Linked DNA regions of Homo sapiens. The protein of the gene in region 2 interacts with the protein of the main gene of each other region in a pairwise test. Each region holds a gene or a part of one and is shown on either strand. Other genes may lie near its edges.

Region 1 (8,615 bases), on a different chromosome or scaffold from region 2:
GCCACTGAGTTAGAAAACACAAAACCCAGCAAGTCACAAAAACCACATTCTCAAAGATGTCGGGGAGCTGTGGAGCAACAAGAGCTAGATGACCTGCAGCCAGAGTGGGGGGTGTTGGGGGGTTGGGGGCGGCGTCCGCCTGCCTCATGCACTGAGTGAGGGCTGGGCTGGCCACTGGGCCACGCTGAGCCCACACAGCCACACATGGCGGCCGCGTCCCCACCGACATTTATAGTCCAGAGGCTGCACAGAGCAACTAAAAGCAGAGGGAAAATCCCTGCAACCTCGGAGTTCTCGAGCAAGGGGTCTGCTCGGGCACCGCTGGTCTCCTCCCCCGCACTTCTACCAACTGTGGAAGCCGCTGGGGCAGGAGGCGAGAGAGGAAACCTCAAGGTCCTCAAGGGGCCTCGGTGGAGCTGAAGCTGAGACCCTGCCCCGCCCCAGGCCCCCAGCCCTATTGGCCTGGACTAAAACAGAACGAACACCTCCTGGGGAGAACAGAAATTTCCCTCTCCACGCTTCCTTTATATCTAAAGTCAGACAGCTAATAAATCATGAGACATGTACCCTCAGCAGGGAAATAGGACTGATTATGTTTTTTTAAAAGCTGGTTACCAAGGAATGGTGGCACATGCCTGTGATCCCGGCTACTCAAGTGACCCTCCCACCTCAGCCTTCCAAAGTGCTGAGATTACAGGCATGAGCCAAAGCACCCAGCCCTACAATCTCTTAAATGAAAAATGTATTAAAGGAGATTAAAACTAACTTAGGGCCGGGCACAGCAGCTCACGCCTGTAATCCCAGCACATCGGGAGGCCAAAAACAGGCAGATCCACCTGAGGCCAGGAGTTCGAGACCAGCCTGCATAACACGGTGAAACCCTGTCTATACTAAAAATACAAAATTAGCCAGTCATGGTGGCACGTGCCTGTAATTCCAGCTACTTGGGAGGCTGAGGCAGAGAATCGCTTGAACTTGGGAGGCGGAGCTTGCAGTGAGCCAAGATTGTACCAGTGCACTCCAGCCTGGGTGACCAAGCAAGACCGTCTCAAAAAAAAAAAAAAAAAGACAGAAAGAGAAAAGAAGGAAGGAAGGAAGGAAGGGAGGGAGGGAGGAAGGGAGGGAGGGAGGGAAGGAGGAAGGAAGTGAGGGAGGGAGGGAGGAAGGGAGGAAAGAAGAAAGGAAGGAAGGAAAGAAAGAAGGAAAGGGAAGGTGAGAGGCTGAGCTGGGCGGATCACTTGAGGCCAGGAGTTTGAAACCAGCCTGGCCAACAGGCTGAAACCCCGACTCTACTAAAAATACAAAACTTAGCCGGGTGTGGTGACGCTCACCTGTAATCCCAGCTACTTGGAAGGCTGAGGCGGGAGAATGGCTTGAACCCGGGAGGCAGAGGCTGCGGTGAGCGGAGATTGCGCCACCGCACTCCAGCCTGGGCCACAGAGCCTGAACCTGTCTCATAAATAAATAAAGTAATAGAAACAAATCAAACTGAAGTACAGAAAGAAAAAAGCTTGCAGAAAGTAAGCAGAGCCTCGGTGAGCTGTGAGAAAATCTAAGCTAAGGAACGCACAGGGAGCTGGACAGCAGGAAGAGGAGAAAGGAGAGCACAAAAATACTGGAAGAACTGTCTGAAAATTTTCCAAATTCGATGCAAAGTATAAACCAACAGTTCAAAGATGCTCAACAAGTTCCACGCAAAATATACACAAAAAAATCACACCAATACACATCATAACCAAACTGTTAAGAGCCAGTGACAATGAGAAATCTTAAAAGCAAAAAAAAAAAAAGAAACCACCAAAAATAATTATTATCAGTAATTTATCATCAGAATCAATGAAAGACAGAAGAAAATGAGAGAACATCTTTAGCGATAAAAGAAAAAAGGTCAACCTAAAATTCTATACGCAGTGAAATAAAAGCATTTTCAGAGAAACAAAAACAGAGAATTCATCACCATCAGCATACATGTACTGCAAAAAATGTTAAAGTTCTTCAGTAGAGGAGAAATGACAAGACAGAAATTTGCATCCACATAAAGAAATATACGTAAGCAGAATATGTATGGAAAAAAAATTTTTAAAGAAAGAAAATAAATATTAAGAAATAATAGTTGGGCCAGGCGCGGTGGCTCATGCCTGTCATCCTGCCACTTTGGGAGGCTGAGGCGAGAGGGTCACTGGAGGCCAGGAGTTCGAGACCAGCCTGGCCAACATGGCAAAACCCCATCTCTACTAAAAATACAAAAATTAACCAGGTGAGTAGGTGGGTGTAATCTCAGCTACTCAGGAGGCTGAGGCACAAGAATCACTTGAACCTGGGAGGCAGAGGTTGCCGTGAGCTGAGATCGCACCACTGCACTCCAGCCTGGGACACAGAGCAAGACTCTGTCTCAAAAAAAAAAAAAAATGAAGGTTACCAGAAATGGCAACTATATGAGGTAACTATATATGGGGTGACTTTTGTGGTGAGAACACTTAAAATCTACACATTTTTTTGAGACTATATTGTTATTAACTGTAGTCACCATGTTGTAAAACGGATCTTTTGAACTTATTCCTCCTATCTAAATGAAATTCTGTATCCAACGTCTCCCCTGACCACCCCAGCGCCTGACCACCATTCTACTCTCTACTTCTGTGAGTTCAACATCTTTACATTCCACATATATTTTAAGGCGTGTTTCACGTCATCAGTGGTTTGCATCTAAGGTAATAACGTGCTGGGAAGCTCAGATCACAGGCAAAGTGAAGGACAACAGCACAAAGGCAGGAAATGGAAGAACACTTGTGTGGAGCCACACGTTAAACATCAAATAGTGTAATATCTGAAGCTCACTGTGATAACTTAAGGAAACTGAGTGCACACACTAGAACAATCCTTAAAATACAGGGGCCGGGGCAGTGGCTCACGCCTGTAATCCTAGCACTTTGGGAGGCCGAGGTGGGTGGATCACTTGGGGTCAGGGGTTCGAGACCAGCCTGGCCAAAATGGTGAAAACCTGTCTCTACTAAAAATACAAAAACATTAGCCGGGTGTGGTGGCGCACACCTATAATCCCAGCTACTGCGGAGGCTGAGGCATGAGAATCGCTTGAACCTGGGAAGCAGAGGTTGTAGTGAGCCAAGATCATGCCATTGCAAATTGTACTCCAGCCTGGGCAACAGTGCAAGACTCCGTCTCAAAAAAAAAAAAAAAAAAAAAAGCATGGCTAATAAGACAAGAGTGGGGAAAAAAACGGAATACTAAAAAATACCTGATTAGTCCAAAAGAAGACAGCAAAGGAGCAGAAGGAACAAACAGAAAACTAATAGCAAGATGGTGAACCTAAATCCCACCATATCATTAATTATGTTAAATATGAACAGACCAAATATTGCAATGAAGGCCGGGTGCGGTGGCTCATGCCTGTAATCCCAGCACTTTACAGGGAGGGGAGGCCAAGGTGGGCAGATCATTTGAGGTCAGGAGTTCGAGACCAGCCTGCCCAGCATGGTGAAATCCTGTCTCTGTTAAAAATACAAAAATTAGCTGGCTTTCAAAGGATTTCAATTATGTAATGTTCTTTGACCACAACAGAAGTCAACTAAAAAATTAAAATTAGAAAGGTATCTGAAAAATCCCAAATTATTTGGAAATTGAGACACATACTTCTACATAAGTTATAGGGCAAAGAAGTAGCATGAAAAAAAAAATTCTAGGTCAGGTGCGGTGGCTCACGCCTGTAATCCCAGTATGTTGGGAGGCCAAGGCAGGCAGATCACCTGAGGTCAGGAGTTCAAGACCAGCCTGGCCAACATGGTGAAACCCTGTCTCTACTAAAAATACAAAAAAAAATTAGCCAGGCATGGTGATACGTGCCTGTAATCCCAGCTACCCAGGAGGCTGAGGCAAGAGAATTGCTTGAACCTGGGAGGTGGAGGTTGCAGTGAGCCAAGATCACACCACTGCACTCAAGCCTGGGCAACAGAGTGAGGCTCCGTCTCACCAAAAAAAAAAAAAAAAAAAAAAAAATTCTATTCCAGCACTTTGGGAGGCCAACGTGGGTGGATCACTTGAGCTCAGGAGTTTAAGACCACCCTGGGCAACATGGTGAAACTCCATCTCTACCAAAAATATAAAAAATTAGCCAGGCATGGTGGCATGCACTTGTGGTCCCAGCTACTTGGGAGGCCGAAGTGGGAGGATCTCTTGAGCCCAGGAGGTGGAGGCTGCAGTGAGCCAGGATCATGCCACTACACTCCAGCCTGGGTGACAGAGTGAGACCTCATCTCAAAAAACAAGAAAAACATTCTAAAATATTTTAAATAGGTAAACGAAATAAAAATTTAAAACAATATCAAAATTATATCAAAATCATAATATATCAAAATTTGTGGAGTGCAACAAAGATAATAATTAGAACAAGGAAGATATAAAAATCAATTATGCAAGCTACTTCCACCTTAAAAAGCTAGAATAGTATAGGCAAAGTAAACCTGAGTAGAAAACAGGAAATAGAGAGTAGAAACAAATGCAATAGCAAACAAAAAAATAGAGAAAACAATAAAAATAATGAAACTAAAAGCTAGTTCTCTAAAAAGATCAAGACGGCCAGACGCAGTGGCTCACGCCTGTAATCTCAACACACGGAGAGGTTGAGGCAGGCGGACTGCTTGAGCCCAGATGTTTGAGACCAGCCTGGGCAACATGATGAAACCCTGTCTCTACAAAAAATTAGCCAGGCATAGTGGCGCATGTCTGTGGTCCCAGCTACTCGGGAGCTGAGGTGGGAGAATCACTTGAGCCTGGGGACAGGGAGGTGGAGGCTGCAGTGAGCCATGTGCATGCCACTGCACTCCAGCCTAGGTGACACAGCTAGACCCTGCCCTCAGGGAAAAAAAAAAAAGGATCAAGACAAAATGAGAGAAACATAAATTACCAGTATCAGGACTGAAAGAGGGGTCATCATAACAGACACATCAGAACCATAATAATGCAAAATTATTAACAACCTGATGTCAAAAAAATCTGACAACTTACATGAAACAAATTTCTTGAAAGACACAGATTTTTTCCAAAACTGACTCGAGAAGAAATAGAAAGCCTGAATACTTCCATAACTTTAAAGGAACTGAATGCAACATCAAACTGTACACTTAGAATAACATTTTATTGTATGTAAATTATTCCTTAATAAAGTTAATTTAAAAGGTTAGAAAAACAACAGGACTAAACTATAATGTATAGTGTCTAGGAATGCACTATAAAACTATTAAAGAAACAAGGAAATAAACACTATAGAAATCTGGATCATGTTTATTTGGGGGCAGGAGGAGTTTATGATTTTAACAGGGCATATGGAAGGCCTTCCAGCAGCAGTTAATCACTGACTAGGTGCTACTTACAAAGATCTTCACTTTACGGAAATTAATTAAACCATGTTTGTTCTGTGCGGTTTTCTGTATCTGTGCACTACTTTACAATACGAGAATGTTGGGATTTTTTTTTTTTTTTTGAGACGGAGTTTTGCTCTGTCACCCAGGCTGGGGTGCAGTGGTGTGATCTTGACTCACTGCAACCTCCACTTCCCGGGTTCAAACAATCTCCCTGCGTCAGCCTCCCGAGTAGCTGGGATTACAGGCAGCTGCCAACTACTCAGCTAAGTATTTTGCATTTTTGGTAGAGACGGGGTTTCACCATATTGGTCAGGCTGGTCTTGAACTCCTGACCTCAGGTGATTAACCTGCCTTGGCCTCCCAAAGTGCTGCGATTACAGGCATGAGCCACCTCGCCCGGCCAAAAGGCTAAGCACTAGCTAAAAAACTGAAAATTGGGGCTGGGCACAGTGGCTCACGCCTGTAATCCCAGCACTTTGGGAGGCCAAGGCAGGTGGATCACGAGGTCAGGAGATCAAGACTATCCTGACTAACAAGGTGAAACCTCATCTCTACAAAAAATAAAAAAAAATTGGCTGGGTGTGGTGGCATGCACCTGTAGTCCCAGCTACTTGGGAGGCTCAGGCAGGAGAACTGCTTGAACCTGGGAGGCAGAGGTTGCAGTGAGCTGAGATCGCGCCACCACACTCCAGCCTGAGGGACAGAGCAAGACTCCATCTCAAAAAAAAAAAAAAAAAAAAACTGAAAATTGGGTCGGGTGTGATGGCTCATGCCTGTAATCCCAGCACTTTGGGAGGCCGAGGCAGGTGGATCACCTGAGGTCAGGAGTTCGAGACCAGCCTGGCTAACATGGTGAAATCCCATCTCTACTAAAAATACAAAAACTTAGCCGGGCATGGTGGTGCGCACTTGTAGTTGCAGCTATCCAGGAGGGTGAGGCAGGAGAATCGCTTGAACCTGGGAGGCAGAGGTTGCAGTGAGCCGAGATGGCGCCATTGCACTCCAGCTTGGGCAACAAGAGCGAAACCCCATCTCAAAAAAAAAAAAAAAGAAAATTGTCCCTTTTTTGTCAAGAAGAACTCTTTTTTTCTCTTTATTTTTTTTTTTTGAGACAGAGTCTCATGCTGTGGCCCAGGCTGGAATGTAGTGGTGCGATCGTGGCTCATGATCCTCCCAGCTCAGCTTTCCCTAGTAGCTGGGACTACAGCCCACACCACCACCCTCAGCTAATTTTTTCTATTTTTTGTAGAGATGGGGGACTCACTTGGTTGCCCAGACTGGTCTCAGATTCCTGGGCTCAAGTGATCCTCCCGCCTTGGCCTCCCAAAGTGCGGGAATTATAGGCATGAGCTACCGTGCCCAAAACTTACACTCTTTGACCCTCCCTCTGTGAGATCATCTCCACAGAGGCTTCGTGGCATTTCAGCATTTTCTCTTTAGTCTAAATGTCACTCCTCTGAGGTAATGCTACGATCTCTTTGGAGGGTATACAACACCTTTGGCAGGGAGGGTGTCAGTGGGAGAATGCTTTAAATAAAGTATCTCAAAAAACTTCAAGTTAAATGACATGTCTATTTAATAAATGTGGCCACATAATTAACAATGAATATATGCACACTATATGTTGACACATAAAATAACTGACAGATATACAGAAATCTAGCTACTTAAAGAGTGGTCTACATTGGCCTCTGTCAACAACACGTTGCTCACCATCCTCCTGTCCCTAGTGGGGCAGCACACACTGTGGCTAAGAGGACAGGCACTGGAGTCAGACTCCAGGTGCAGCCCAGCCGCACCACAGCAGCCCTAAAGCCTGGGCAGGTCCCTGCGACACTGAAAATGCCCCTGACAACGGCACCCCCTCAAAGGCTGCGGTGAGGACAGGCTGACGACAGGCGCGCAGCGTAAGAATCAGAATACCACCCGGCACACGGGGTGCACTTCACTCGGGTCAGCTTCCATCAGTGTTCCTACATCCGGGATACAGGCTATGGGTATTCGTTCTTTTGGGAAAAAGAGGGGAAAGCCTCTTACCCTCCTTTGTGCTTCTTTTTCTTTGGTGTGTCTTCCTCTGATGTCCTCCTGCCTCGGCCCCGGGACCCTCTTTTTTCTTTCTGACCCCGGCCTTCTGAAAAATAATCAAGATGCAAATTATTTTTATAGAATTCTCTAAAGCAAGGCAAGTTTTGTGTTTTGTTTTTAAAAAGGGGTCTCGCTCTGTCTCCCAGGCTGGCTGGAGTGCAGCGGAGCAATCATAGCTCACCGCAGCCTTGACCTCCCGGGCTCAAGCAATCCACCCACCTCAGCCTCCCGAGTAGCTGGGACCACAGGTGTGCACCACCACACCTGGCTAATTTTTAAATTTTTTGTTGAGATGAGGTCTCGCTATGTTGCCCAGGTTGGTCTCAAACTCCTAGCCTCAAGTGATCCTCCTGCCTCAGCCTCCCAAAGTGCTGGGGTTACAGGCGTAAGCCACCACACCCAGCCTGCAAGACAAGGTTTACCCAAATATGATACTTACCCTAGTGATCATACTTTAATGATTTACCGTGACAAAACTCTTCAAAACTCCATAGTTAACAGTAATAAAATAAAGAAAAAAAATTAACAGACTTGCTTTTTAACCCTCGCCCTCCGGAGCTTTCAAAATCACTGCCCTCCATCTTGTCCTTCAGATCTGCTTCAAAGCGCGCCAGGTCTGCATCAAGCCTTCGAATGTGTTTATCCACCTACAAAAGGATACCCAAAGTCTTATTTTAAAGTAAAACCAAAACACCTCAGAATCACGAATGTACAAAAGTATCCACCAGGAAACACCTTCTTGCCCTTTAATTGAGTCTCCAATGAACAAACCTCTGCTAAAACAAGGCCCACTATTTCAAAGTCCATGCAAGGGTCTTGTGCTTTTTCTGCATATTTTGACATTGCAATGGAATAAATCCCATTTAGGGAAAAGACATGAGTGTGGGCAATAATGAGAAGCAGAGTTGTGAAATGCAGTGAACAAGGCCTGGGATATCTGACGCTGAACCCTACTTTAAAATATGGCTACCTGGAGGCCAGGTGCAGCGGCTCACACCTGTAATCCCAGCACTTTGGGAGGTCGAGGCAGTCTGATCACCTGAGGTCAGGAGTTCAAAACCAGCCTGACCAACATGGTAAAATCCCATCTCTAAAATAAATACAAAAATTAGGGCAGGCGCGGTGGCTCACGCCTGTAGTCCCAGCACTCTG
Region 2 (9,071 bases):
CTGTGATCGTGCCACTGCACTCCAGCCTGGGTAATATGATGAGACTCTGTCTCTCCCCCCAAAAAGTGGTGGTGGTGTTTTTTCTTTTGAGATGAGGTCTCGCACAGTTGCCCAGGCTGCAGTACAGTGGTATGATCATAGCTTGAACTCCTGGGCTCAAGTGATCCTTCCACCTCAGCCTCCCTAGTAGCTGGGATTATGGGCACACACCACTGTGCCCAGCTAATTAAAAAAAATTTTAAGAGACAGATCTCGCTATGTATGGTACCCAAGCTAGAAGAGAGTGTTTTTTGTTTTTTTTTGAGATGGGAGTCTCACTCTGTCCCCCAGGCTGGAGTGCAGTGGCAAGATCTCAGCTCACTGCAACCTCTGCCTCCCGGGTTCAAGCAATTCTCCTGCCTCGGCCTCCCGAGTAGCTGGGATTACCGGCGTGCACCACCACGCCTGGCTAATTTTTGTATTTTTAGTAGAGACGGGGTTTCACCATATTGGTTAGACTGGTCTTGAACTCCTGACCTCATGATTCGATCTCCTCGGCCTTCCAAAGTGCTGGGATTACAGGCATGAACCACCGTGCCTGGCCGAGAGCATTTCTTATATCTGAGATATTTGCTGACTCAGACCCATGTGAAGGACCTATCTTCCCAAGGACAGGATGGACTTGCCCACTGTACTCACCAATCATATCAAGCAGATCCTTTGTGACCTCTTGGCTAGAATTGTTGAGTGGCATGTTTGAGTCAGCCTTCAAATCTCTCTCCATATCTTTCCTGCAGCCCCCAGGTGGGGGGGAAGAAAAGGTGGGGAATTAGATTCTCTTTCAAGAAAATATTGAAGGGAAACTCAGTTTTAGATAATCTCAAAGACAAAAACTTACTGGTGACCTTGTCATTTATGCTTTGATTAAAGGACAATTGGAAACTGCTACATCAGTGGAGAAATTGACTAACAGCTTTACCATAATGACTCACGAGCATCGCAGACTGTATTAAATTTTTTTCTTTTTTAGAGACAGGGTTTAGCCATGTTGCCCAGGCTGGTCTCGAACTCCTGGGCTCAGGCGATCCACTCGCCTCAGCCTCCCAAAGTGCTGGGAATACGGGCATGAGCCACCTCACCCAGCCTGCATTTGTTTACTTATTTATTTATTTTTATTTTTTATTTATTTTTTTGAGATGAAGTCTCGCTTTGTCCCCCAGGCTGGAGTGCAATGGCGCAATCACGGCTCACTGCAACCTCTGCCTCCCAGGTTCAAGTGATTCTCCTGCCTCAGCCTCCTGAGTAGCTGGGATTACAGGCGCCTGCCACCACGCCCAGCTAATTTTTGTATTTTTAGTAGAGATGGGGGTTTCACCATGTTGGCCAGGCTGGTCTCGAACTCCTGACCTCAGGTGATCTGCCCGCCTCAGTCTTCCAAAGTGCTGGGATTACAGGAGTGAACCACCGCGCCTGGCCTGTTTGTTTTAAAGACAGAGTCTTGCTCTTGTCGCCCAGGCTGGTGTGCAAGGGCGCAATTTCGGCTCATCGCAACCTCCTTCTCCTGGGTTCAAGCGATTCTCCTGTCTCAGCCTCTGGAGCAGCTGGGATTACAGGCGGCCGCAACGGCACCCAGCTAATTTTTCTATTTTTAGTAGAGACGGGGTTTCACCATGTTGGCCAGGCTGGTCTCAAACTCCTGACCTCAGGTGATTCATCCGCCTCAGCCTCTCAAAGTGCTGGGATTCAGGCGTGAGCCACTGTGCCCAGCATTTTTTTTTTTTTAAGATGGAGTCTTGCTCTGTTGCCCAGGCTGGAGTGCCATGGCAAGATCTCAGCTCACTGCAACCTCTGCCTCCAGGATTCAAGCAATTCTCCTGCCTCGGCCTCCCAAGTAGCTGGGATCATAGGCGCGCGCCACCACGCTCGGCTTATGTTTGTATTTTTAGTGGAGACGGGGTTTCACCAGACCTCAAGCGATCCACCCACCTCAGCCTCCCAAAGTGCTGAGATTACAGGCGTGCCACCACACCCGGCAAGGCCTGCACTGCTTATGAGTACCAATATAAATATTTGTGGAGTTGAAAGGAAAAAAATTCTTGTGGAGTTGAACCAATTAAATGGCCTCTTTATCCCCTTCCTATGAAGCAGCCAAGATGGCAGAACTTTGAAGTTTTTTTTTTTTTTTTTTTTTTTTTTTTTGATACGGAGTCTCGCTCTGTCGCCCAGGCTGGAGTGCAGTGGCGTGATCTCGGCTCACTGCAAGCTCCGCCTCCCGGGTTCATGCCATTCTCCTGCCTCAGCCTCCCGAGTAGCTGGGACTACAGGCGCCCGCCACCACGCCCGGCTAATTTTTTGTATTTTTAGTAGAGACAGAGTTTCACCGTGTTAGCCAGGATGGTCTCGATCTCCTGACCTCGTGATCTGCCCGCCTCGGCCTCCCAAAGTGCTGGGATTACAAGTGTGAGCCACCGCGCCCGGCCTGAAGTTTCATCTCATACATTCATCCCTTCTCCAAGTCAAGGTGCCTGGGACCAGGCAATTTCAAGTTACTCGGGAGAAGAAAAAGTCTAGAAGAGACCTGGTGATGGTCCAAAAAGATCTGGGGTAAGAGCGGGGAGCAGAGGCAAAGATGAAGCCAGGAAGTAGGGCCCAGCCTTCAATTAAGCCTCTCCCTAATGTGGGCAAAGGAGGGTATCAAAGGCCCCAGTGTCCAGATTCAAACACAGGAGTTAAGATGGAATTAAGACTTTTGTTTCTGCAACTTAAAAAATAAGGTTATTTTTAAAACCCGGTTATTTTACATCCACTACCCCTTTGGGTACTGCAAAGTGGTTTCCATGACTGGTTTTTGACATCAACGATTGACAACTAGCCCCTCAACTGGAACATATACACAAAATATAACTGTTTCCTAGGCCAGATTCTGAAGAATGTCTGTCAACTCCCCAAATGCAGTCACAGAGCTGCCAAGAGGAGGCAAGAGCACTGTCATGAACTAAATCTAGGATCTTCAACAACTTTTTCAGAAACAAGAATCCCCTTAATTGTAGCTGTTAAACCATCAAAATTAGAATCACCTTAAATTTTCTTTTCTCCAGTTTTCCCCCTCTCCTGCAGTTCTCCAAGACTCTCTTTCAGGTGCCAAAATGGAGGAATGCATCAATACATTTTCCTTGCTGGTTAGAGGTTTTCTCTCGGGGCACAGAGCATGTGGTTTTGCATTTACCGGGGCATGGTTTGTTGCAAAGGCAGGGTTCTCATTCTCAGGAGCACATGGGACAGCAGCAAAAGGAGCAGCAGAAGAGCAGGCTGCCAGAGGATGTCTTCTGCAGAGGAGCCTGTGCACGGGCAGCGAGAAGGAGAGCGGCGCGGCGCTCAGTTCCAGCCTCTGCTGGCCTGTGCACTCCTGGGAATAACTAACTCCTTCAAAGGCCCGGTCAATGGCTGCAGTCAGTTCCTTTCTGCATCTTCTTAGTTTTTCAGACATTTCTCCTAAAAGCGACCATGTCTTTATGTAATGCATTGGAAATGCACAGGACAACACAATAATGTTACAAATGAGGCTGCAAACTACCCCTGAATGGCCACGATTTCCTGGAGCTTGGCCCTGGCTATAGCAGGACCCACAACCCTCGGGCTTTCCTCCTGGAGTAGGCGGTTCTCGGCTCTCGCGGAGGAACCCGCCATCTGCCAGAAGCCCCAAAGACGCCCCGCCCCACTTCCCACAGCTTCCTGGCCCGCCCCGCCGCTGCCTCCCGCCCCACCGCGGCTCCCAGGCCGCTGGCCCTACCGGCACCCCCCCTTTGGCGAGTCGGCAGCCACGTCCTTGTCCTCACCCGCAGCGCAGTGACGCCGACCCATCCAACGGTCATCGCATGCGCGTGCCCCGCGCAGGCCCCAAACCCCCACGGATTAGGTTGAAGGTCAGACAAAAAATCCCGGACCCATACGTCCGGTTCCTTAAGGCCTTGCCCACACGCAGCGGCTGGCCCCGCGGTGGGAGTGGGGACGGGGCTTTCGAATGGGGGCCCCGGGAAGAGTCTTGGCAGGGATGAGGAAAGAACCCGTTCTAGAAAGCATCTGGGTAACACCAAAATGTATTACTACCCTAAATCGCCATGAACTGGAGCCCTTTCCCGGCTAACTCCCACAAAGATTTCTGTTCTCAAGCCAACATGGAAACAACTAGACGGGACACAGCACCGGGCAGTTTTATGTACTGACTTCCTTTAAGCGTTATCTAATAAAAAGTGTGTTATCTAATAAAAGTTCCACACAGTATTTAACCGTCTTAATTCATCTAGGGTAGCAGGGGATATAACAGAACTGCTGGGTTCCACAGGAGGTTGAGGGGCCAGGATCCCCAACACTAGATATCTTCCTTAGCGGGGAGAAAGCTGGAAATTACAAGATGACTCAACGGAGAAATGGGCTTCAGTGGGTAACTTTCAGAAAATTATAAACCCATATCAGTGCACATAGCGAGGGAAAGGGGAGTTTACTTGAGGTTTGGGTTACTGTGAGCAGACTACTTGGGGTGACTAGTATTGGCATCAGAACCAGAAATCCAGGCGCTCAGGGCAGCCCTGCAGGTGGGGTGGGTCTCCAGGCTGCTCCATACTCAGCGCCTGTGTTCCTCTCCATTCTTCGGGATCCATCAGACATACTCCATTGAGTACCCCCATCCCACCCCCTTTTCAGCTTCACAGGTTTCACAGAAATTTCTCACCACCTGTTTAAAAATAAAAATAATTCAGCCTCTTGACATAGCTTCTTCTAGGTAAACGGTCTTCTTTTTTTTTTTTTGTTTCCTTCTGCTCATAAAAGAAGGGTATTTCCTTGTCTGGTTTTTAGACAGAACACTAGCAGTCTGCAGAGTGTCAAAGATGTTCTCCTGGGGGATTACACTGGCGCTACAGGGTGGCAGGATCGTGGAGTCAGCATTAGTTGGTGTCCATGCTGCAAGCCTCATCATCCCCAAAGCCCTGCTGAGAGCTGCTTGGTCGTGTCCCTCCATCAGAGGAACCAGAACTGCTAAGTGAAGGTGTCTTATAAAATTCATCATCTCGACGTTGGTAAAATAGCACATAAGCTGCTTTAGTCTGAAATACAAGAGGGGGAAAGACCATTCAGTGCTTGGAAAAATCACCCATTTTCCCCAGCTTTTCTCTAGCTGTCCAAAACCCTCAAGGATCTGCCATATCCACACAGAGGAGACCCTTCCACCTGAGGATGGCTGCCCCTGCCAGGCAGCAGGAAATGGAAGGAGCCTTGTGCAGAGAACTCTGAGGAGAGCTGAGCTTCTCATTTATGAAGGTCCCTGAAGGAATGCCAGCCAGCTCTGTCACACCTAGCTCCCACTATCACATCAGGATGATGAAATAACCAACTAGCCTGATAGAGGCTCTTCCCAGCTTTAATCCATAACGACATGAGGAAGAACCACATATCATGGCCTACTCACCACTATCTGATCCTCAGAGGCCAGGGACACGTTGCTATCATCAAAGTAATACCATTTACCATTCAGTTTGTTCTTCGCATATGCAGTGTCTGCCAAGTCAACAAAGAAAATACTCTAGCGGTCTCCAGAGAATTAATCTGGCTAGCTTATTAGGCTTGCACTAAATAAACACAAAAATCCCCAAAACAAAACCCCTGAAATTAAAAAAGTTTACAGTGTGTGTCTTAACAACCAAAAAACAACTCACCTTCTTTTCTAATCTGTTCCTTCTCAAAAAGGATCAAAAGGCTAAAAATGGAGCTGTCAGGGACCAAGATTTTAAACTATAATTTTGGGAAACTAATAGAAAAAACAGAGCTATTCAGTGCCAATCTTCAGGATGGCTATGTGCAATAATCCAAAACCAGGGAACCCATAAAAGGAGCTGAAACTTCTAAGATTTAAGCAAAACAATAGCTCTCACAAGGACATGCCAAGTCAGTCTCCCCCATTGCATCTAGGCAGGTGGCTACTAACATCAACAGAATGCTTAGTGCCTCGGGAGCCTACAGAATAATCCCAGTTAGAGGAACATTGGGTGTTTGGGTTTGCAGAGCTGGGATGTGAACAACATACCTTAGTCTCCATATCCAAAAAAAAAAAAATTTATCTTTCTCTAAAACTAGGAGTCCAGAGTCTGTGGTTAGGTAACAGTTTCCCACAATGATTCAAGCATTTCCCAGAGGCAATGCTTCTTGTCTTGACTTTACACTATTCCCAAGCAGGATGTGTTTATTACAGCAATCCCAGCCCAGTTCCTGCTCCACCCAGACTCTCAGAAACTACAGAACCCAATGGAGATCTGATATCCAGTGTCAACTTACTGTGTGGTTTTAGGTAAGGTGTTTAACACTTCAGCCTCAGTTTCCTCACTATAGCATTGACTGCACAAAGTGGTGGTGAGGATCATGGGAAAGGGCAACAGAGAAGGTGCCCAAGGCCAGTTCACACAGTCTGTGCTTGACACAATAGCAGCAACGGTGGCTTTCAATTTTGAAGTTCCAACTGTAGGCCCAATGTGGACCCTCACACAACCAGCCTAACCTCATGGATGAGAAAACTGAGGATGAGAAACTTGCCCAAATGGTATGTTTGTGTGCAAAAATTAGCAAATAAAAATGAACACAGGCAGGGCACGGTGACTCACACCTGTGATCCCAACACTTTGGGAGGCCAAGGCAGGGTGGTTCGCTTGAGCCCAGGAGTTCAAGACCAGCCTGGGCAACATGCCAAAACCCTGTCTCTACTAAAAATACAAAAATTAGCCAGGTGTGGTGGCGCACACCTGTAATCCCAGCTACTCGGCAGGCTGAGGCACGAGAATCGCTTGAACCCGGGAGGTGGAGGTTGCAAGTGAGCCGAGACTGCGCCACTGCTTTCCAGCCTGGGTGACAGAGTGAGAATCTGTCTCAAAAAAAGAGCAAACCAGCCAGGCACAGTGCCTCACACCTGTAATCCCAGCACTTTGGGAGGCCGAGGCGGGCGGATCACGAGGTCAGGAGATCGAGACCATCCTGGCTAACATGGTGAAACCCCGTCTCTACTAAAAATACAAAAAATTAGCCAGGCGTGGTGGCGGGCGCCTGTAGTCCCAGCTACTCAGGAGGCTGAGGCAGGAGAATGGCGTGAACCTGGGAGGCAGAGCTTGCAGTGAGTGAGATTGCGCCACTGTGTTCTAGCCTGGGTGACATAACGAGACTCCGTCTCAAAAAAAAAAAAAAAAAAAGAATTAAAAAAAAACAGAGAGGGGAATCAGTATGAAGAAAGCGTGCAGCATGAAGCCTGTGAAACTGCATAAGCAAAGCATTTAGGGCAATGCCTGGTCCACTGGTGAGAGATGATGGCCGAGCACATTTCAACATCTCAGAAGGAAGCAGATGTCAATACTTACAGTGGCCAACCCCCATGGCTCCATAATGATTGGACACGGCAATGAGGTCGTACACATAAGGCCTTGCTGACAGGTTACAGACAAACTCGGACATGTTCAGCCCTCTGAGCACAAAACACAAAAATAGTTATTGAATATGTTAAACCCAAACAAAGTAGTTAAGAGTAACCCAGCAACCTCTGTTATGCAACAGGGCAGAACACAGGGAGGCACTCAAACTATTCGAGAGAGACCAAGATGGAAGGGACTCTAGGATCCATGTTCTGACCACTGACATATTCAGGCTAGAAAATGGGGCTGGGTGTGGTGGCTCATGCCTGTAATCCCAGCACTTTGGGGGGCCAAGGCAGGTGGATCACCTGAGATCAGGAGTTCGAGACGAGCCCGACCAACATGGTGAAATCCCGTCTCTGCTAAAAATACAAAAATTAGGCCGCGCACGGTGGCTCACACCTGTAATCCCAGCACTTTCGGAGGCCAAGGCAGGCGGATCACGAGATCAGAAGATTGAGACCATCCTGGCTAACACGGTGAAACCCTGTCTCTACTAAAAAATACAAAAATTAGCTGGGCGTGGTGGTGGGCGCCTGTAGTCCCAGCTACTCGGGAGGCTGAGGCAGGAGAATGGCGTGAACCCGGGAGGTGGAGCTTGCAGTGAGCCAAGATCGCACTACTGCAGTCCAGCCTGGGCAACAGAGCGAGACTCCGTCTCAAAAAAGAAAAAAAGTATGTGTATATATATATATATACACACACACACACACACACACACACACACACACACACACATATATACATTTATATATACACACACACACAAATTAGCCGGGCATGGTGGCACACACCTGTAATCCTAGCTACTTGGGAGGCTGAGGTAGGAGAATCGATTGATCCTGGGAGGCAGAGTTTGCAGTGAGCCGAGATCGTGCCATTGCACTTCAGCCTGGGCAACAAGAGCGTAACTCCGTCTCAAAAAAAAAAAAAAAAGGCCGGGCACAGTGGCTCATGCCTGTAATCCCAGCACTTTGGGAGGCCAAGGTGGGTGGATCATGAGGTCAGGAGTTTGAGACCATCCTGGCCAACATGGTAAAACCCCGTCTCTACTAAAAATACAAAAATTAGCTGGGTATGGTGGCAGGCGCCTGTAGTCCCAGCTACTCAGGAGGCTGAGGCAGGAGAATTGCTTGAACCCAGGAGGCAGAGGTTGTAGTGAGCCGAGATCGCACCACTGCACTCTGGCCTGGCGACAGAGTGAGACACGGTCTCAAAAAAAAACAAAAACAAAACAAAAAAAACAACAACAACAACAAAAGAAAATGGGAGAACCTTTCTGGGTAACTCCAGCACCAGACAAAATGGTGATGAGGGTCTAGAGATACACACAGAGGGCTTCAGCAAGTATGCAGAAATGGCTGTTCTTAACAGAATTACAGTTGGTGCCATAATAATTTAAACTCAACCAAAACAGGCCCCAGAAAGCTTTCTTCCTCCAATATTTTATTTAAAAATTTTCAAACACACAGAAAAGATAAAGAATTTTTTTTTTTTTGAGACGGAGTCTCGCTGTGTCGTCCGGGCTGGAGTGCAGTGGCGCGATCTTGACTCACTGCAACCTCTGCCTCTTGGGTTCAAGTGATTCTCCTGCCTCAGCCTCCCAAGTAGCAGGGATTACAGGCATGCGCCACCATGCCTAGCTAA

The links.
Region 1: the proteins of C3orf62 (region 2) and ING5 interact in binary tests that used the Homo sapiens proteins (3 or more experiments, as listed by UniProt).

The regions. Positions count from the first base shown.
Region 1 is NC_000002.12:241,710,872-241,719,486, reverse strand, and holds part of ING5 (inhibitor of growth protein 5), read right to left. Parts: intron 8,111-8,615; coding exon 7,999-8,110; intron 7,510-7,998; coding exon 7,416-7,509; intron 5-7,415; coding exon of another isoform or gene 1-4. UniProt on the Homo sapiens protein: Component of the HBO1 complex, which specifically mediates acetylation of histone H3 at 'Lys-14' (H3K14ac) and, to a lower extent, acetylation of histone H4. Component of the MOZ/MORF complex which has a histone H3 acetyltransferase activity.
Region 2 is NC_000003.12:49,273,371-49,282,441, forward strand, and holds the start of C3orf62 (uncharacterized protein C3orf62), read right to left. Parts: upstream 3,863-9,071; 5' UTR 3,503-3,862; coding exon 3,057-3,502; intron 817-3,056; exon of another isoform or gene 771-816; coding exon 679-770; intron 1-678. Other genes in the region: USP4 (ubiquitin carboxyl-terminal hydrolase 4), read right to left, coding at 4,923-5,081, 5,444-5,532, 7,374-7,477. UniProt on the Homo sapiens protein: Essential for normal spermatogenesis and male fertility.